3 linked regions of the Homo sapiens genome follow. The protein of the gene in region 1 interacts with the protein of each later gene in a pairwise test. Each region holds a gene or a part of one and is shown in the gene's direction. Other genes may lie near its edges. The genes, in order: AKR1B1, EFCAB11 and SHBG.

Evidence for each region.
Region 2: the proteins of AKR1B1 (region 1) and EFCAB11 interact in binary tests that used the Homo sapiens proteins (3 or more experiments, as listed by UniProt).
Region 3: the proteins of AKR1B1 (region 1) and SHBG interact in a two-hybrid assay, tested with the Homo sapiens proteins (one study listed by BioGRID).

The regions. Positions count from the first base shown.
Region 1 is NC_000007.14:134,456,006-134,463,086, reverse strand, and holds the start of AKR1B1 (aldo-keto reductase family 1 member B1), read left to right. Parts: upstream 1-3,986; 5' UTR 3,987-4,024; coding exon 4,025-4,090; intron 4,091-7,081. UniProt on the Homo sapiens protein: Catalyzes the NADPH-dependent reduction of a wide variety of carbonyl-containing compounds to their corresponding alcohols.
Region 2 is NC_000014.9:89,951,698-89,958,859, reverse strand, and holds the start of EFCAB11 (EF-hand calcium-binding domain-containing protein 11), read left to right. Parts: upstream 1-4,129; 5' UTR 4,130-4,199; coding exon 4,200-4,274; intron 4,275-4,323; exon of another isoform or gene 4,324-4,502; coding exon of another isoform or gene 4,503-4,505; intron 4,506-4,858; coding exon 4,859-4,954; intron 4,955-7,162.
Region 3 is NC_000017.11:7,626,229-7,633,153, forward strand, and holds the start of SHBG (sex hormone-binding globulin isoform 1 precursor), read left to right. Parts: upstream 1-3,906; 5' UTR 3,907-3,944; coding exon 3,945-4,055; intron 4,056-4,187; coding exon 4,188-4,279; intron 4,280-4,451; coding exon 4,452-4,641; intron 4,642-4,971; coding exon 4,972-5,133; intron 5,134-5,360; coding exon 5,361-5,520; intron 5,521-5,650; coding exon 5,651-5,787; intron 5,788-6,523; coding exon 6,524-6,731; intron 6,732-6,925. Other genes in the region: SAT2 (thialysine N-epsilon-acetyltransferase), read right to left, coding at 219-386, 525-565, 715-816, 915-998, 1,135-1,186, 1,325-1,627. UniProt on the Homo sapiens protein: Functions as an androgen transport protein, but may also be involved in receptor mediated processes. Each dimer binds one molecule of steroid. Specific for 5-alpha-dihydrotestosterone, testosterone, and 17-beta-estradiol.

The DNA.
Region 1 (7,081 bases):
GGCTTGGTGGAATGAAGATGGAGCCCCAGTGCTGGAGAAGTGCAATGGCTACGGCCCCCAGAGCAAGGCACAGTCCAGAAATGGCTCTAATCTCAAGATGGCGCCATGCTGCAGCAGCTTGGCTCACTAAGGGAAGGGTGTGTACACACCCTGTGCTCCTAATCCGGAGTGATACAGCTATATGGATTCCCAGAAGCTCTTCAAACTGGGCACGGGGCTTGCAAGGACTGTGGGATTATTTTGTAATGAGGACTGGAGTCATTTACAGTGGCAATGGAGACTGGTGAGGTTCTTTTACCTTCTCCCTAAAAGGGGACTTCCCTCCTGTCTCTGGGCTGATGCAATTGTGGCAGGCAAGATGGGGCTACAGAGGCCATGTGCCTCCATGGTACTCTCTTGGGCTTCCAATCACTACAAGTACCCCTTTACTCCCCCATTGCACTTTAATGCTCTTTTTTCATAATTGCAGTTAAATATTAGCGGTTTATTTATTCCCTTGGTCCTTTCTTATGGTGGGGACAAGAACTAGGCATTTCTAGTCAGCCTTCTTCCTGACGTCACTCATTCCAAAATTCTTAGTGTGAGTCACAGTTTAAAAATTTGAAAGCTACTGGTAGTGGTTAAGAGTTTGAGTGCTATAGTCAAATTCCTAGGTTTAAATATTGACCCTAACATTTACTTAATGTGAGATCTTAGCAATTTTTCTCACTTCTCTGCATCTCAGTTTCTTCACGTGTAACATGGATTGATCATAGTATCCATGAAAGGGGTGGTTATGAAGATTAAATGATTTAATGTACATAACTCAATAGATATATAAGCAGCAGCAGCAGCACCTTCATATAACATATGCCAAGTGCTGAACCATAATACAGTGTCCAAACCATAATAAAGACTCAGTAGTGGTTTGTCGTTGTGGAAGAGACTTCTGTTGCTCACCATACCCATTCACTTCTGTTTTCTGGCATACAGGAGGATGACACTTCCCCATCCCATTGAAGATAGGCCTGGCTGGGCTCTACCACCAGATCTGGTTAAAGGATTATAGGTAGAAGTGATGTGTGCCACTTCCAGGACTGAGCAATTGATTGCTCATTTGAGACTCTTAGGTTCTCTTTTGCCTTCCTAAGCCAAACCCTGAAACCTTGGGTTGGGACAGCAGGGAAACAATGTGGTGGGACCTCCATAGCTTGAGTCCCTGAGTGACAATGTGAACAGAGCCTACTGTCACCCTCAGCTCCACCAGCTTGTGTTGGACATGTAGCATATAACCTTTGTTTGTTTATAGAAGCTTTATTGATGTATAATTTACGTACCATATGATTTACCTTTTTAAATATGCAATTGGGTGGTTTTTTTGTATATTCAAACTTGTACCAGATCTCGCAGGGCCTTGAATGCCAGGCTCAAGAGTTTAGGTTTTATCCTATGGGAATTGGACAGTTCATAAGAAGTTGTCTTTTAATTCAAAATGTGTTCATTAAGGAAATAATCTGACAAAGAGTATTCCCCATTTCCTTCTGTCTTCTTCCTAAATTTCCTAAATGTTATAGGTTGTATTTTCCTTCTTAGCATCATTCCATAGCTATATGACTTTGTTTTCTACTTTCACCTTAACATTACCTCATATACATTTTTCTCTGTGTCTTTGTCATCTTTACTTTTGATGGCTACACCTTATCTCTTGCTATTGTTGGATATTTACAGTTTTACTTTAAGTATACAGCATTTTAAAAATACATACGCATATGTGTATATCTGTGTGCAGGCCTGGGACTAAGGGAAGGCAAGTGCCAAGGACATAAATGTAAAAAAGCTCCTACCTTCTGGCATGAAAATTTGTACCTGTGTACCTCATTTGTCTTACCTTGGTCCCAGCCCAGCCCTATACCTAGTGTGTGTGTGTGTGTGTGTGTGTGTGTGTGTGTGTGTGTGTGTGTGTGTTTTCCTTTTAAATTATTTCCTTAGGAAAAATTCCCATGATGGGAGATTACTGGTTCAGAGCATGTTAAGATTCCAATTACTAGAGTGTTTCTCAGGAGGATTCCATTGAAGGTTTTTTTCCCTTTTTCAAACAAAATTTTGATATGTATACTTATCAAAAGATGGGAGATCAAAAATCTTGAGATCAAAAATTTTGGTATGTGTACATTTTACAAAGATTACAGAGGCAATGGGGGATGTTAGGGGGCTATCACAATAGCATGTCCCAACTAGAGTGCTATTGTTGCTATAGAAATTCCACTGATACAACTTTTCATGTCTGCATGGCCCAGCCAAAATATTCTGGGTTTATTTATTTATTTTACAGACAGGGTCTTGCTATGTTGTCCAGGCTGGTCTCTAACTCCTGGGCTCAAGCAGTCATCCCACCTCAGCCTCCTGAGAAGCTGAGACTACAGGTATCACTCCAGCTTTAGACACAGTTATAACTTCATGCAATCAAGCTGTATACTCAATTATTATCAAACCAACAACAAAGCCTCTGATATTGAGTCCATGTCCCTAACAGACGACCCTTCTGTGTGTACCAACCTGGCCACTCAAGGTGTATCATTTTCACAAGAGATTAGCTCTTTGGATTTGGACCCAGGAGGTTCAATTGGCAGAGCAACCTCCAAGTCAAGAGGACTCTCATGGAGGAAGGAACTTGCTGTTTTACACAAAGCAAGTTCCCAGCTTTAGGCTCAAGTTCAAATTCTATTACTTGGGGACAAATGAATTTGCCCAATAGCAACAATTTTTACAAAAGTTACATGGAAAAATATCTGGGCTAGTCTGTTCTGTATAAATTTTTCCAGGAGGGAGCACTTTTAAAGAAAGCACCAAATGGAAAATCACCGGCATGGAGTTTAGAGAGACCTGGTGCTTGAGTCACTACCAGGCAGATGGAGTTCCCAATCTTGCATAATTAGGGGAAAGATCGGAGGGTGATGGAGCAGAAAGAGCAGTTGGGGTGAGGTAGAGTATCATGAAGAGAGGTTGTTGGAAAGAAACCAAAATTGTCTTCAAGGATCTTCAAGTGACTTTTCTTAGGCTATCTTGGAAAAATGTGTGTTTCTACCTGCCAATTAGGGTGATCAATTTACTATTTTGTACCTTCTAATTTGAAATACTGGAAGCTACAATATTAGAGTCAACTTTTTCTTCTGTGGTTTTCTGTCTGTTCACTTTTCTTCCTCTAGAGAGTTTTGATAAGTTACTGTACTGGAACTTACTGCTTTGATAGAGTCTCACTTTCCAAAGACTGATGAAATTTGTCTTACTGATTCTGAATGGACAGCCTTACTTTCCAAATTCTTCTGAGAGTTCTGGATCAAGCCCATCAAGGCTTTCTAACCTCAAGAACATCAAAGGATGCTGGCTTTTGGTGGAAGGCTTGCTGAACCACACCTAGTATGCACAGACACAGCTAACACCTAGAGTGGGGTGCAAAGAGAGATCTAGAAGGCTACAAAAAGTCTGGGCAAACCCATATTTTGTGAAGGTGCTTTGCAAAAGGATTGCAAGCCATTTTTCTGGCATGCACCTTTGTCTAAGAACAAAGTGCGGTAAACTATATGTGTAGTCAGTATGATTCACATAGATTAAGGACAAGGTATTCGTCAGATTCCCAAAGAGCATCAAACTGGGGTTGGACAACAAAGGCATTCTTCTGGGCTCTTAATGAAACCAAAACTTATTTCTAGTCTATGTATTTATGGGATGCCTGTTATTTTCGCTAAAGCATTCGCTTTCCCACCAGATACAGCAGCTGAGGAACTCCTTTCTGCCACGCGGGGCGCGGGCGAGCGTTGGGGGCGGAAAGAATCCGCTGCCACTAGGACCAGGCGGAAGAAGCATCCCCGCCGACCCTTGGGGAAGGCCGCCGCGGCACCCCCAGCGCAACCAATCAGAAGGCTCCTTCGCGCAGCGGCGCGCCAACCGCAGGCGCCCTTTCTGCCGACCTCACGGGCTATTTAAAGGTACGCGCCGCGGCCAAGGCCGCACCGTACTGGGCGGGGGTCTGGGGAGCGCAGCAGCCATGGCAAGCCGTCTCCTGCTCAACAACGGCGCCAAGATGCCCATCCTGGGGTTGGGTACCTGGAAGGTAGGTGCTCGTGGGGGCGCGGGCCCGGGGCTCGCCTCACACTCTCCGCGCGGCCTGTATTGGCGAGGGACCCCGAGTGACCCTGAGCAGCTCGCCCCGCGGACGCCCGGCGTGCTGGGAGCCACGCGCGGGCTTGCAGGGTCCCCAGCGGGCTGGGGTCGGCCTTGCAGAGACCGGGGGCCTTGGCTCCCCGGGTTGGCCCTGGGCGTCAGGGCAGCATCCTGCGAGTGGGGTTTGGGAGCAGCTCACGGGAGCCCCCGCCCTACCGCGGGCAACCCTTGATGGGCGGCCCACCAGTCCGCATTTTGGGTCCTAGCGGGCGCCCCAAGCGGCACAACGCGAGAGGGAGGCGGGGAAAGTGGGCTTCACAGACCGGTGGACCTCGGGCGCAGACAGGGACGTGGAGCCGTCGGCAAGGTGTGGGAGCGCAGACCCAGCCTCCTTTCCCTCGAGGCACCTGTAGCCCGGTTGCCTCACTTGTAAATAGTTGGTCTCAATCGTTTCGATTCTTGCCCTCCCTGAGGAATAAGCATCTCAAGCCGGTAGAGGGCAGAGAATTAGGTGGCGCGAGTTTGCCCGGACCCAGCTGTTAACAAGGCGCAGTGCGGAGCTCCTCGGCCAGGCGCCGCCTCGGGGTGCCCTGGGTCTGGAACTCGGGAGAAAAATCTGGGCACCCCGTAGCTAGTTGATAATTCAGGAGGCGCCAAGGTTAGCATTTTCCCTGTAAAACCTCAACACCACACAGCGTCCCCGAGAAGTGCCTAGCCGGATGAGAATGACAATAGGACATGAAACATCATAGGATATGAAAAATGATAATATGATATGAAAAACCAAAAATAATAGCCTGAGCCTGATTATCTGAAAATTGAGCAACAAAGGTGGTGGTATGGGAGCTGAGGCAAAACCTAGAATTTTTAACCTTCTAAGTATTGCATATTATATTCCACAGCCATAACCTGGGTTTCTCAGTTTCTGTTTTTGTTGTTTGCTTGTTTGTTTGTGACAGGGTCTCGTTGCCCAAGCTGGGGTGCAGTGGCACAATCATGGTTCATTGCAGCCTGGAACTCCTGGGCTCAAGTGATCCTCCTGCCTCAGCACTGCGGGTAGCTGGGACTACAGGCGCTCACCACCACACCTGGCTAATCTTTTTTCTTCCCCGCAGAGACAGTCTCCGCTTGTTGCTTAGGGTGATCTCCAATTCCTGGGCTCAAAGCGCTCCTCCCACCTCGCCTCCCAAAGCTACAGGTGTGAACCATCTGGCAGGCCCACGTCCCAGGTTTTTCTCTTAAAATTTGAATATGGGCCTGGGCGTTGGATATTTACACACAGACAAGGGAAGAAAACAACAGAAAGAACTGAGTGAACTGTGAGATGTTTGAAATAGGACAGAAGAGTTTACATGTACCCTAAAACCTGCTGTTGAAAATTAGTAAATATAAGGTAAGAAAAAGGTCATTTGCATCAGGGAGAGTGTTTCTTGGCCAGAATGATCAGGGTACGTGATTTGTTTCCTCCAAAAACTCCAGTGGTGTCTCTAAGGTTGTAATTGAATTACAACCATGACACCAAGCTAATTTCCATCTGTTGCATGTTATGCTCTTGGAATGGATGCAGAAGGATGCTTTCTTGGCAATAGCAAATACTTTCTAAGCATGATGCAACGCACAGATATATACATGTAACTGGAATAAAAATTACTTAACAGTACTTAACCTATGTAGGCTGCATTTCAATATTTTTTTCTATTCCATTTTTCCAAAAATTATTGTCATACCTCCAGAAGCTAGTTTTGTGACCCATCATTTGAAAATCACTACTCTAGGGTAAATAAGGAGTAAAAGTTTATTTTTTTTTTTTTGAGACAGGGGCTCAGTGTCACCCAGGCTGGAGTGCAGTGGCATGATCATGATTCACTGTAGCCTTAACCTCTTGGGCTCAAGTGGTCCTCATACCTCAGCCTCCCAAGTAGCTGGGACCACAGGTGTGTGCCACCACACTCGGGTAGTTTGTTTTTAATTTTTTGTAGAGACAGGTTTCCCTATGTTGTCCAGGCTGAGGAGTAAAAGTTTATGAAAGAGGGTTTCAGATTATTCACTTGAGCACTCAATGCCCCAAAAAGCTATGTATTTGTTTAAGATAACATCACATCATAACATCTGTACATTTAGGTTATGCATTCCAGTAGACAGAGTTCATTGAGAAATTGGATAATGTCTGCTTCATTCATTACTATTTCTAGCACTTCTCACAGTGCCTGGCAAATATAGGAGTAGGTATCCAAAAGTTATGTGTTGAATTCATATGAAGAAGTAAAACGACTTTAGAGATAGCTGTATGGTGAAAACGCCCACTTGTATTCCTGTGGATGAGGAGATCAGGTTGGTGTAGAATTGTACGGTGGGGGCAGCGGGGAATGGTGGGTCAAAGTAATGGTATAAGGATGGACTTGGAATCAACTTCCTTTTTTTTTTTAATGACTTAAAACCTTTCCCTGGGGCCGGGCGCGGTGGCTCACACCTGTAACCCCAGCACTTTGGGAGGCAGAGGCGGGCAGATCATGAGGTCAGAAGATAGAGACCGTCCTGGCTAACATGGTGAAACCCCGTCTCTACTAAAAATACAAAAAATTAGCCCGGCATCGTGGCACGCACCTGTAGTCCCAGCTACTTGGGAGGCTGAGGCAGGAAAATCGCTTGAACCCCAGATGTGGAGGTTGCAGTGAGCCGAGGTCCCGCCACTGCACTCCAGCCTGGGCGATGGAGCAAGACTCCATCTAAAAAAACAACCAAACAAAAAAACCTTTCCCTTGTATGTGTGTATGTATTCTTTCACAGATGCTCGACAGAAGATGTGATCCTTTGCCTGTCTTTGTGACAGCTGGAGGAGGCCCTGCAGGCAGGTGCAGTTCCTTATTCTCCTGGGTCTTCCCATGCCGTAGCGGCTGTGTTGTACCTTTCAGACCCTCAGCAGGGCTCTGGTAGTCTCTAC
Region 2 (7,162 bases), on another chromosome or scaffold:
ATATTAAGTATATGATAGTCTATGTGATAGCGGCAGGAGGCAGACAAATCCCTAGGCAGATAGGGGCAGGGCCCCAGTGAAACCCCACCTGCAAACCAAAGACAGTTTAAAGCCTGAAAGCCAAGCTACAAGTGTTGGGTAAATCCACGGACCGGATTGATAACCCCTCTTCCCACTTGGCACACTTTCCTCTGATCAATCCCCACCCTTCACCTACTTTACATATATCTACCCTTCCCTAATTGGTTTTTTACATTGTCATGCCCACCTTTGAGTGGTGCCTTTGTTTTAGCCTTTTTTGCATACTCACAAACCATGGAGCACACACTCCCTCATTCTGAGCCCATAAAAGCCCCAGACTCAGTCACACCAGCGAACTGCCCACCTTGGGGTCAGGGCAGGGGCCATCCACTTGGGGTCCCGTCTCTGCTGAGAACTGTCTCATCACTGAGTAAAACTCACCTCCGCCCTTTTCCCCTTCGGTTGTCAGCCTAACCTCATTATTCTTGGACGCAGGACAAGAAATTCGGACCAGCTAAACAGCGAGTGCAAATAGAGCTATAACCCTGTAGCACTCCGTTCCGCTAGTGAAGCAATGGGAGAGGGAGCTGCTGGCTGCCACACACCCCCATTCATTGGGCTGCAGATGGTGGGACTAAAAGAGCTGTTAATACATCTCTATTTGCCTGGTGTCTCCAAGTGTTTGGGCACTACTGCATCCCCCTCGTCTGGACACCAGAATCTGCTACCAGAGTCACTTGCCATACACCCAGGCCATCCACAAGCCCTACATGGAGCCTGTGACTGGGCCAGCACTTGGAACAGCCAGCCGGGCCTCCAGGCTTGCTCACTCACTCACAAACCGACTCCTCGCGGGCTGAGCATGCAGTCATAGTGGCCACGGGATCTGGGCGGGGATGAAAGACAAATGCATTCTGCCAGGCTGAGTGGGCAGGGCACCTCCTGCAGCCAGCCCAGGGCTGGAGGTCTCCAGCTGGCAAAGCGGCCCTGAAATAAATCCTGTGTCATGTGTTAAGAGAATAAAGCAAACTGGGGAGAAGGCAGGTGAGTGTGAGTGAAATTTGGCAAACACTGCACTAACATGAAAAATCTAAGAAATCTTCCCACCAAATGCTAGCTCAGGACACTGTTAGCACTTTTATTAAGGACTTTAAAACATGTTGTGGATATAAAAGGGTACTCCATTTAGAGCTACTAGTGTTTCCTCACTCCCCACTATATGAGACCCAGCTGGGGCATTTCTCTTTCACCTCCAGCTGCTCCTTCTCATTGAGCTTAAAGACCATCAGCTGGGCCTGGAGGCCATGCTCCTCAATTGAGTTCCTGTGTGGCCAGTAATAGGCAAACATGGTCCCTTGTCTCAAACCCGGCCATGACTAGGGAGTAAATGTGCACTTGGGCAGGTTAGTTAACTGCTGAGCCTCAGTTTTTTAGTCTGTGAAATGGATATCATGCTTACCCCCTGGAGTTCATTCATTCAATAACTTACTGGGCAGCTATTATGTACCAAAAACTGGGAATGAGGCGTTAACAATATAGTTTCTACCCTAGCAGAGCTAATTTCAGGGCAGAAGAGACAGACCCACACATAAAAATTTTAATAGCCAAGATGAGTTAGACATTCATTACATTTTATAAGTATGAGACAGAAAAATAGGGGTGACCTTTGGAATATACTTAAAAAGTAACATATAAATGAGACCCAGAGGGCCAAAAGGAACCTGCTGTCTAAATGATGGGGTGAAGAGCATTCCCAAGTAGAGGGAACCCAGCCGGCAGAGGTGGGAAAGAGGTCATAAGAAAGGACTTAGGCAAGGCAGGCAGTGGTCCGAAGCGGGTGAGGGGAGAAGACTTGTTAAAGAAATTGGATTTTATGCAATGATCAATGGGACCCCACTGAGGGCTTTAAGAAGGGGAGTCCGATTTACATTTATTTTTTTGAGACAGAGTCTCGCTCTGCCGCTCAGGCTGGAGCGCAATGGCGCAATCTCGGCTCACTCCAACCTCTCTGCCTCCCAGGTTCAAGCAATTCTCCTACCTTAGCCTCCCGAGGAGCTAGGATTACAGGCATCCACCATCACGCTCGGCTAATTTTTCTATTTTTGTAGAGACGGGGTTTCACCATGTTGCCCGGGCTGATCTCAAACTCCTAACCTCAAGTGATTCAGCCGCCTCGGCCTCCCAAAGTGCTAGGATGACAGGCGTGAGTCACCGCGCCCGGCCTTCGATTTGCCTTTTTAATACAGCTGTGTGCTCCAACTCTGCGGAGAATGGGTTGAAGACAAAGGAAGTGAGAGGGCTCTTGCTGAAGGCGTTGGGGACGGAGCAGATTCAGAACGTGAGGAAGTGACGGCAGCAGCTGCTAACCTTACTGCGTGCTCATTTGGGGCCGGCCAGGCACGATTCGAAGCGCCTCACCAAGTGTAAACTCGCTTCACCCTCAGGACAACTCTATACTACGTACCGTGACCGTCCTCCTATACTGGGAAACCGAGCACAGAAAGCTTAAGCGCCTGGCACGTGGTGGGCGCTTTCCTACTCACTTTCTGGGACCACGCACCTGTAAGCTTAGGTCTGGGAATAAAAACCCGAGCAGGGGCCCCTAGCGCCGCGCCCCGGCAGGACACAGGTCTCCGCAGCGCCCGTGCGCGCCCCCTGAGGCGCTGTGATCGGAGGAAACCGAGGCCCCGGGGCCGAGGCGACCCTGCCCCATCTTCCCGGCCGCGCCGCTTCCTCGCGGTCCGCCTCCAGCCCTGCCGGACCCCAGCAGCCCGCGCACCGCGACTCGGCCAGGAGCAGGATCCCGGGCCCGACCGCAGCCCGCGAGAGACCGCACCGAGTCCGCGCCCACTGCCGCCCAACACGTACCTGAGGCGCACAGAACCAACGCTTGCCTCGGATCCCGCCCCTTCGGCGGCCGCCGCGCATGCGCGCAGTTCAAACCCTGGCGGCAGCGGCTTGTGCCTCGAGGCCCGGCCCCTTCCCCTTCCGGAGAGCCCACCGCTGGGTCCTAAAGCCCGCCGGGTGTTTACCCAGGACGGGGCTGGGGAAACCTGGTCTCTCCTAGCTCTTGGCTTACTTCCTGGAGACTTCTTAAAACGAGAGGAGAACCAGAAAGGCGTCCCCTAACTTCGCTCTAGTTAACTAATAGCAAGACTCACCCTCTTTACAGGATTCTCATGGCTCAGGCTCCCAGGGCTCCATGCAGCGGCGTTTGGTTTAAAGTGGAGAGAGGATACGCTTAGGTTAAAGGCAGCTGCAAGGAGACCTGTGTCCTGGGAGGGGCTGGGTGCAGACTTTGAAATCTGCTGCAAAATAAAAAGTTAAATGAGTTCCCATTGGACTCAGAACCTCGAATGTCTGTTCCTTCTTCGCAACAGTTGCGTTCTCGTAAAATCTTCTGAGAAAAGGAACTCGCCCCACGTTCCTTGCCTTTAATAAGGATGTTTGCTGTGGGATTTGGGCTCGGTGCTGTTTATGGTATTTATTCTTGGAATCTCTTTCACACTAGGCATCTCTTCCAGAGGACTGAGTGAAATACATCTGTGTAAATATAACGGCTCGTTTCGTTCTTTCATTGAAGATCTACTTTGTGCCAGGCACAGTGCTAGGTGCTGGGATTATCTTGAGGACATAACAGATGTAGTAGCTGCCCTAGGAGCTCGATCCCAATGACTTGCTGATCTGAACGAGAATCCTGGACTTGGCTCTTTTCGTTTGGTTCTTCTTGTTTGTTCACAGTCTTTTTGTCTCCTATAACGTTTAGCATAGTGTCATAGATCTAAATGATTAAAAGTAACCTATTGCAAGATGGAGGGAGAGAATGAAATAAATCATGAACCAGGCATTGAACCAGCACCTAGAAGCGCTTGGATTTCCAGCCGCGCTCAACGAGTTAAGGGACAGTCAGGGGGTGGAGCCAAGTGCTGGGGGCAGGCCTGGGCGCCTCACTGCCAGGGCGGCTCCAAGGAAACGTAATTAAACAAAGACTCTGGCCAATAGCCCTGCGGGATTAACGCGAGTGGCTGGCAGGTTGTCCAATGGGAGGAGACGTCGGAGTTGCGCGGTGAAGTTCGGCTTCCTGAGCCGCGGTGGGCGTGGCCGCGGTAGGCTGCCAGCCAGGCTGGGAAAGCGGTGGTAGCTGGTTGGGTTGCTGGGGCTCGGTTGTTGTAGTCGCGATGTTCTTCTCCGAGGCCAGAGCCAGGTCGCGGACGTGGGAAGCCAGTCCCTCGGAACACAGGAAGTGGGTGGAAGTAGGTTTCCGGAGGGCGACTGAGCCTCGGACTTCAGCTTGGCCTGGGCCTCTCGCTTCCTCTCCCGTGTCTGGGTCTCACTCTGCCGGGTGTGCAGATAAGACCTGGGCTGCCTGTCCAAAGGGTCGTGGTTAATGACTGATCCTGGAGCTGCAGGGCTCCTGGCTCCCCGTCCAGGACTACGGCTACCTCCAAGTTCCATCTCCTTTCTCTCTATATAGTCTATTAATGGTAACCTTGAGTCTGCATCTCTCCCGCCTTTCAAAGCCAGCCCCTTTGCCTCACCTTCCTAACTCCAGGACTGAATTTTGGGTAGAATTTATCTCAGTGGCCTAAATGAATTAATTTGCGTCACCTAGCGGTTAACTCGTTTGCACTTTGAGGGAAATTTCAGCCCATGTTTAAGAAAATTTCAGTCCATCTTTAAGATTTCTTGAGAATTAATATTGGGATAATGAAATTCTATTTTCATACTCTACCGCTGGGCCAAGTTTTAGATTTTCGAGGTCCAAACTGTATAATAAACTAGTAATAAAAATAAACCATTTCTGTCTCATTAACTAAAGCTATTTAATGTTCTTCAGGTATTTAAAGCATGTGATGAAGATCACAAAGGATATCTCAGCAGAGAGGACTTTAAAACTGCTGTTGTAATGCTGTTTGGGTACAAGCCCTCCAAGGTAGAGCTTTCTTATATATTTGGGGATGGGGTAGACGATCAAAGGTGAATGGATCCTAAGAAAAGTTCACAGGGCTAGCTTAGGATGTTTATAAATTGCTTTATAAGCAATTTCAGAGATGTGTCCAGTGCTGAATTTTAGCTTCCTCTTAACACCTCAGCCCAGAGATGAAGTAGAAATCTTTTCCACTGGAGTCTACACAAGCCTATCTCACCACCAGGCTGCTAATAACTACTATAAATACAAGATGCTAGAGAGGTGCCAAGAGGGAAGACTGAGAGGGGAGTGTTGGTAACAGGAGAAATTTACATAGGACATGACATAGTCTCTTTCTCGTTTTACTTTTGTTGCTTTGTTTATAAAATACATCCACGGTCAAAAAATTAAAACAGTGCAGAAAGGTATAAAGTTGAGCATAAAATCCGCTCGCCGCCTACCAGAGGGTCCCACTCCTAGGGGATTACCATTAACAGTTTTTTTGTGTAATTCTGAAATTTTCTATCCATGACATACATATGCATAGTCTTTTATTGAAAACATAAATGGGTAAATATTGTGCCTACTTTAACTTGCTTTTCTCATTTAACAATATATCAACCTAAAAGCACACACCACTACTGCATTTTAAAATATGGTTGCATATTCTTTTTAGCCAGGTTCCTGTCTGGGGTTATATAGGTGGGGTTTTTTTTTTTTTTCTGCCAACATTGCTGCAATGATACACACATTTATGTCCTTGTGGCTGTATATCTGTGGAATAAGTTCCTAGAAGTATAACTGCTAGGTCATGGAATATGTACGTTTAAAATTTTGTTAGATATTTGCTCTCCAGAAAAGATTGCACCAATTCACCAATAATGAGAGTTGAGCTGAGCCTCCATGAACCTCCTGCTTGAGTAGGGCAAGTTTCCTGCTCACCCCTGTCTTTATGCTTTTCTGCTTTCCTGTTACATTCATTCGAGAGACAACACCCTTCTTGTTAAGCTGGAATTAGTCAGAGTCAAGATATTGTCCAGATTCAAGAAATTGAGCTGCCACCATCAAGCAAAGGAAGCACTCAGAGCTCAGCCTGGAATGCCATCCCTCACTCTCATTAGACCAGACAGCTTGGCAGTTAATTAGGGCCCAGCTGTTCTCCTCATGAGTGGACTGTGCCTTTCTGTCAGATTGAAAGCCCAGCAAAGCCAGGGACCCTGTGATGTCATGCCTCTCCGCCCTATTTGTGTCAACAGAACATACTTACTGTGAAGTTGTGATGCACAATAAGTATTAATATATTCTCTTGACCCAAGTAGGTTGCATGAACAGCTCAGGTGGGTTCAGAGTGGCTCAGCTATGAGGGGCTGCCTAGTTACTGAGAAGCTTATTATGGAGCTCAGAGAAGTAGTCAGGGCTGACTCTTAGAAATGGCAGCTCTCCTGTTTACCTGTAATCATTTCAGTTGGAATTACAAAGCAGGTCAGCTGAAAAGAGTCAGCCTGTGAAGCATTGTATTTAACTTGGATTCACCTGGAAAGGTATCTTGTCTCATTTTTGCCTTTATCACCCTTGAGTCTATTTGGTTTCAATTTTAGAATGAGGAATTTAATGACAGATACAGTGATGTAACATACTGTACATACACTCCATGAAATTTAACAGATTTTACTTTTCATATTGAGGTGAGGTTTTCTATTTTATTTTTTAAGCAAATGAACTATTTAGTAACCGCAGGTCACTAAACGGTATTTACTAATAGCATGTCACCTATAAACTTAGTCATTTGTACAATGAACTTTTATTATGCAGGTGACACTTAATTTCTGTGAAATTCAACAGATTTTTTTAGACTAGGTTGAGGTTTGGGGTTTAATTTTTTAATATTGCTTTTGAGCAAATGAAATATTCACTGACTGCAGGTCATGAAGCAATAAAATACTTATATAATAAATCACTTATACATTCATGCAGTTTTTTACATAATTAAGTTTATTTATTTGTTGAGATGCAGTCTTGCTCTGTCACCCAGGCTAGAGTGTAGTGGCGTGATCTAGGCTCACTGCAACCTCCACTTTCCAGGTTCAAGCAATTCTCCTGCCTCATCCTCTTGAGTAGCTGGGACTACAGGTGCACACGACCATACCCGGTTCTTTTTTTTCTTTTTTTTTTTTTGTGTTTTTAGTAGAGATGGGGTTTCACCAATGTTGGCCAGTCTGGTCTCCAACTCCT
Region 3 (6,925 bases), on another chromosome or scaffold:
CCACATCAGGACATGTAATTCTTATTTATTTTTCACCCTCAACAAGGAAGAAAGGTCTCTCCCTCAATTCTGCTCTTCCAATACTTGAGGATAGGCACCCCTAACCCTCCTTCCTCCAGGGAGGCCTCAGCATCAGTGTCTGTGGACGTAGTCTCTGAAGAGTGCTTCAGCTGATGGGGAAGGAGAAACTCAAGACAGAGATCCTCCTAGGGATGGCGTCACTTTCCTGCCAACTTTCTCGTTGCCTCTCCTTGAAAGCAGAAGAAGTGCCAGCCCTCAGCTTCCGTCAGATCTTGGGCTCCTAGGGCCTTGTACAAGTCCATGGCCCTCTGGTTCCAGTCCAGGACGGCCAGGCGGAATTGGGAGCAGCCCTTATCCAAGGCCACCTGTGGGAGAAGACAACACTAACTTTTCTGGGGTCAAAAAAGAAAAAGGTTTTCTCACTCCCTCTTTCAACCCGGGTCCCCCCTCCATATACCCTTGCTTCTTCAGGTCCTCACTTGTCGCCCCACCCATCTCCTCACCTCAGCCACCTTTTTGATTATTTTGGAACCAATCCCTTGACCTGTTGTGGAGAGAAAGAGGCAAAAAATAGCTATTGTTTGAGCTGAAGGGGATCAGAAAATGACACCGGCTGGGCTCTGGGGACAGGGGATAACAGTGGGGTCTGTGGGGTGCTTTGCTCCCACCCCAGCCTCAGCTTCTGCCCAGTACCCCGATATTCCGGCATCACATAGATATCCTCCAGATAAATGGTGCGTCCCTTCCATGTACTGTAGATGAAATAGTATATCCCATAGCCCACCACGCAGGGCCCTGAGAGAGAGAAAAGGGGAGTAAGGCTTCTGGAAGCCTGTGGGGAGACCTCTGAGGCCGGCTGGAGAGGTGGACTTCTAAGGGCCAGGTGCTCTTACCCAGTAGCTTCCCGGGCGCTGGAAGAATCTCTGCTACCAAACAGTGATAGAAAGGATTGTCTCCAAAGCCATCTGCTCTCAGGGCTGCCGAGATTGGAGTTGTGACAAAGAGATAGAGAAAGAGGACGTGGGTGTATGCCCAGCCTGGAGCTGTCGCCTGGGGAACCCATCCCTCATTTCCTCCCCAGCCTCCGCCAGAACCTGGGCGCTGAGCCCCCACCTTCTTCACTGATCTTCACCTGATCCGAGAGTTTTTCGAATTCGGCTAGCTCCTAAGGCGTGGGTACGGAAGCTAGATTAGAGCAGAAGGGCCCCGCTGCTCCCCGAGCAGGTTCCCAAGGCGAGCCCCTCCCCCTGCCCCCGCCTCCTACGACCCCGCTCTGGCCGCGCCACTCTGACCCCCGGGTTACCGGCCTGCAGTCTTCACCCGAATCAGCCTCAGGATATCTCCACAGTCTCCCTCCTTGGCCTCTCGGATCCGCACGGAAGCCATCCGGATCCCCGCTGTCTGGGACCAAAGTCCCAGGGCCTCGCAAACGGCAACTAGACCCCTTAAAGGGCCTACGGACTTGGATCCTGAAGAGCCTGAGAGAGCGGGGTGGCGGGAGTCGGGGGGGACGGCGGGGTAGCCGCGGCCTGGTAAGTGGAGCTGGGATTCCGGCGCCGTACGGGAGGAGAGAGTAGGCCAGCGAGGCGATCCTCTGTCCGGGCATAGCCCCACCCCCTCGAATTCTGTCGCAGCAGGGGGCACAACTGTCAGCCAATCAGCTTGGAGAACAGGCACGGCCGCGTCCCCCCCAAGCCCCACCCCCGACAGCTGGATCTTGTGACTGGGCTCCTGGGTAGAGTTCAAGGTTGGAGTGAAGCGGCTTCCTTGCGGTTGTGTGGGTGTCCCAACCTGGGTCGAGATACCCCGCGGTTCAAAGGCTCCCCCGCAGTGCTTTTTAAATTGACATATGCAGTGATAACCTGCTTTAGCCTCAGGCTCACTCACCCGCCCAGACCCTGGGTAAGCCTTAAGACCCTCAGCTCTGAAAGCTGTTTCCTGCAGCTCTTGAGTAGCATGAAGTGTTACCTCTTGGGGGCATTTGCATTTTTTAAATGTTTTATTTTTATATTTATTTATTTATTTATTTTTGGAGATGGTGTATTGCTTTGTCGCCCAGGCTGGGGTGTAGTGGCGCGATCTCTGCTCACTGCAGCCTCCACCTCCCGAGTTCAAGCGATCCTCCTGTCTCAGCCTCCGGAGTAGCTGGAACTACAGTCGCGCACCGGCACGCCCGGCTAATTTTTTTTTCTTTTTTCTTCTCTTTTTTTTTGTTTTAACGGATTCTCACTCTGTCACTCAGGCTGGAGTGCAGTGGCGCGATCTCGGCTCACTGCAACCTCTCCCTCCTGGGTTCAAGCGATTCTCCTGCCTCACCCTCGGAGTAGCTGGGATTACAGGCATGGGCAACCATACCTGGCTAATTTTTGTATTTTTAGTAGAGACGGGGTTTCACTATGTTGGCCAGGCTGGTCTGGAACTCCTGACCTCAAGTGATCTGCCCGCCTCAGCCTTCTAAAGTGCTGGGATTACAGATGTGACCCACCAAGCCCGGTCTGTCATTTGCATTTTAAAATGGGTCATGGGGTGGGCACAGTGGCTCACACCTGTAATCCCAGCATTTTGGGAGGCAGAGGCAGGCGGATCACCTGAGATCAGGAATTTGAGACCAGCCTGACCAACATGGTGAAACCCCGTCTCTACTAAAAATACAAAAATTAGACAGGTGTGGTGGCGCATGCCTTTACTCCCAGCTACTCGGGAGGCTGAGACAGGAGAATCGCTTGAACCTGGGAGGTGGAGGTTACAGTGAGCCGAGATCGTGCCATTGCACTCCAGCCTGGGCAACAAAAGCGAAACTCCATCTCAAAATAAATAAATAAAATAAAATGCGTCAGGGAGGGTCGGGCCTTGTGGCTAATGCCTGTAATCCAGGTACTTTGGGAGGCTGAGGTGGGCGGATCATTTCAGGTCAGAGGTTCGAGATCAGCCTGGGCAACGTGGTGAAATCCCCGTCTCTACTAAAAACACAAAAAAATTTGCTGGGCGTGGTGGTGCGTGCACCTGTAGTCCCAACTACTAAGGAGGCTGAGACAGGAGGATCGCTTGAACTCGAGAGGCAGAGGCAGCAGTGAGCCGAGATCACGCCACTGCACTCCAGCCTGGGTGATAGAGCAAGACTCTGTCTAAAATAAAATAAAATAAAATAAAATAAAATAAAATAAAATGGGTCAGGGAGTGGGTGATTTCTACTGCTAGACTGTTTAGGCCCTGTAATAAATGGATAAGGGAAGATAACTGAGAGGCGGGGGGCAGGTCCCTTCTTAATATTCACTGAATCATACACACAGACAATACCTTCTTGGGAGACAGGCCTCAGAGGCCTGGGAAAAGACTGGGGGAGGAGTTCAGACCAGATGCCAGGCACTGTGCCTGCATTTTCTCAATGAACCCTCTTTCACAGTCACCCCGTAAAGTATTATTTTCCTCATTTTACAGACAAGGACACTGAAGCACAGAGGTGAAGTGACTTGCCCAAGGTCACTCAGCTAGAAATTTAGGATTCCATTATCTCATTTCTAGTCCTGATACAGGATGCTACTTGGGACGCAGGGGAGGACTGTTTCTAGACCTCAGGCCTGTGAATGCAGGCTCCCCGAGTGGACAGAAATCTTGGAGGACCTAGATCAGGCCCTAGAGGAGGAGAGGGGAGATGGAATATCCTCTCCCAGTTCAGAAACTTTCTCGGCAGTGGAGGATGATAGTGGAGGGGACTCTGTCCTTCACCCCATTGATCCCCAGAGGGGTGATAGCTGAGTCTTGTGACTGGGCCCCTGGGCAGGGGTCAAGGGTCAGTGCCCCTGTTTCCTTTACCCCCTCCTCCCCGGGCAACCTTTAACCCTCCACCGCCCACACGCAAGGCTGCCTGCCTCTACACATTCTCCCAAGAGTTGTCTGAGCCGCCGAGTGGACAGTGGCTGATTATGGAGAGCAGAGGCCCACTGGCTACCTCGCGCCTGCTGCTGTTGCTGCTGTTGCTACTACTGCGTCACACCCGCCAGGGATGGGCCCTGAGACCTGTTCTCCCCACCCAGGTGCAGGAGCGGGACAGGGCACTCAGCTCATGCAGTCTTCCCTTCTCTCCTCTGGCCCTGTAGCAGGGCCTCTCCCTCTGTCTGTCTCTGACATGTCCCTACTCAGCTTTGTTTGTTTTCTCTTTCTGATAGAGTGCCCACGACCCTCCGGCTGTCCACCTCAGCAATGGCCCAGGACAAGAGCCTATCGCTGTCATGACCTTTGACCTCACCAAGATCACAAAGTATGGGGTTGGCCTAGCCCTTGACCCAGTCCCCTGGTTCTGCCCTCTCTCCATCAGCTCTTCTCTTTTCCCTGTCTTCCTTTCCTTATCTGTGAACACCATCTCCCCCAAACCCACACTGGTTCTCAAAGGACACATGACATACACAATCTTTCCTTCTGTGTCCTTCCAGAACCTCCTCCTCCTTTGAGGTTCGAACCTGGGACCCAGAGGGAGTGATTTTTTATGGGGATACCAACCCTAAGGATGACTGGTTTATGCTGGGACTTCGAGACGGCAGGCCTGAGATCCAACTGCACAATCACTGGGCCCAGCTTACGGTGGGTGCTGGACCACGGCTGGATGATGGGAGATGGCACCAGGTAAGCTAGCTCTGGTCCTCAGGGGAGGGATGTCTGGAGCTGGTCTGAGGAAAGGGAACAAAACCAAGTTATTGGGCATCCCTCTACCACTGTCATCTCGTTTAATCCACACGAACCCCCACAAAGTAGCTATTCTTGGCCCCATCTTTTCTGATGGGAATTCTAAGGCTCAGTCAGTATATAAGTGACAAGAGCTGAGTGACCCAAGGCCAAGGATGCTAGCTGCTTCTTTAAGGCATGTTCTTTCCACTATAGTACTAGGCTGCCTCACAGGAAGGTGGCAGAAACAGATCCCAGGGGCCTCTGATTTTGCTTCCCACCTTCCTGCAGGTGGAAGTCAAGATGGAGGGGGACTCTGTGCTGCTGGAGGTGGATGGGGAGGAGGTGCTGCGCCTGAGACAGGTCTCTGGGCCCCTGACCAGCAAACGCCATCCCATCATGAGGATTGCGCTTGGGGGGCTGCTCTTCCCCGCTTCCAACCTTCGGTTGCCGGTAACTACACCCCAGGGGTGGAACCCTAGCCAAGACTTGGTAAAGCACTGCTGGGTGGCTGGCCGTGGGAATCTAAGTCCACACTTTTAGGGAGAAGGGAAGGGTTGAGAGCTGCAAGGGGGAGGCCAAATGCTCAGAGGGGAGTCAACTGAGGGCAGGGAGGTCGGGACTGCGGCTCCGATGCCCTGATTTCTACATCCCCGTATCTTATCTCTGTCACACTCCAGCTGGTTCCTGCCCTGGATGGCTGCCTGCGCCGGGATTCCTGGCTGGACAAACAGGCCGAGATCTCAGCATCTGCCCCCACTAGCCTCAGAAGCTGTGATGTAGAATCAAATCCCGGGATATTTCTCCCTCCAGGGACTCAGGCAGAATTCAATCTCCGAGGTAGATTTCCTCGGAGTCTATTTTTCCCACCCTGGCCAGCTCAGCCTGCCTCTGTCCCCCTCTACCACTGGCCCCTTTCCTCCTTGAGACCCCAGCTTTGAGGCCTCAGGATAATCATTTCTCCCCACAGACATTCCCCAGCCTCATGCAGAGCCCTGGGCCTTCTCTTTGGACCTGGGACTCAAGCAGGCAGCAGGCTCAGGCCACCTCCTTGCTCTTGGGACACCAGAGAACCCATCTTGGCTCAGTCTCCACCTCCAAGATCAAGTAAAGGGGGACAGTGGGGCATTGCCTGTATTCAGTGGAGCCTGGAGCAATGAGGGAAGAGGGGAGTCCAACATGTCAATATTAGGAAGGTTTCCAGCCCAGGGAACATAACAAGACTGGCTCCACAGAATTGTTTTTCATTAATAATTAGCCAGGCATGGTGGTGCTTGCCTGTAATCCCAGGTGCTGGAGGCCAAGACCAGAGGATCACTTGAGGCCAGGAGTTTGACACCAGCCTGGGCAACATAGCAGAGACCTCTGTCTAAAAAAAAAAAAAAATTAGCCAGGCATGGTAGCACATGTCTGCTGCCCTAGCTATTTAGGAGCCTGAGGCAGGAGGTTCACTTGAGCCCAGGAGTTTGAAGCTGCAGTGAGCTATGATGTGCCACTGCACTCTGACCTGGGCCACAGTGAGACCCTGTCTCAAAAAAATAAAAATAAAAATAAGGCTTATGGATGGCACTCAGGTGGGTGGTAGGGGCGAGGGACATATCTTGAAGCTCCCCACAGCAAGCAAACAGTTTTGACTTAGACTGCATATTTACTTGGGGCAGGTGTGGTTTCAAAAAGGGTCAAGCCAAAAAAAATTGGGGCAGGATTTAAGTGGTGAGAATGGCCAGTAGGTGGAGGCATAGCGAAGAGGCAGAATTAAGGCAGCTAGGGGTGAGGCCACAGGCAGTAGGCCCGGCTCATTCTTCCCTCTCTCTCTACCGTCCCTTTCCCACACACTCTGCAGAAGGTGGTGTTGTCTTCTGGGTCGGGGCCAGGGCTGGATCTGCCCCTGGTCTTGGGACTCCCTCTTCAGCTGAAGCTGAGTATGTCCAGGGTGGTCTTGAGCCAAGGGTCGAAGATGAAGGCCCTTGCCCTGCCTCCCTTAGGCCTGGCTCCCCTCCTTAACCTCTGGGCCAAGCCTCAAGGGCGTCTCTTCCTGGGGGCTTTACCAGGTAAGAGAGAATGATGTTCAAGTTCATGAGCACAACATTGGAAACAGCTCAAGGGAGGCGGCACATTTTGAGGGGAAGGAAACCTCTGGGAGGGAAGAAGAATAGGCCACAAGAAGAAGATATGGGGGCAGTGGAAGGTAGTGCTTTTGCAAACTCAGGTTGGAGGAGTGGAAAAGTGGGGAGAAGATTCTGGA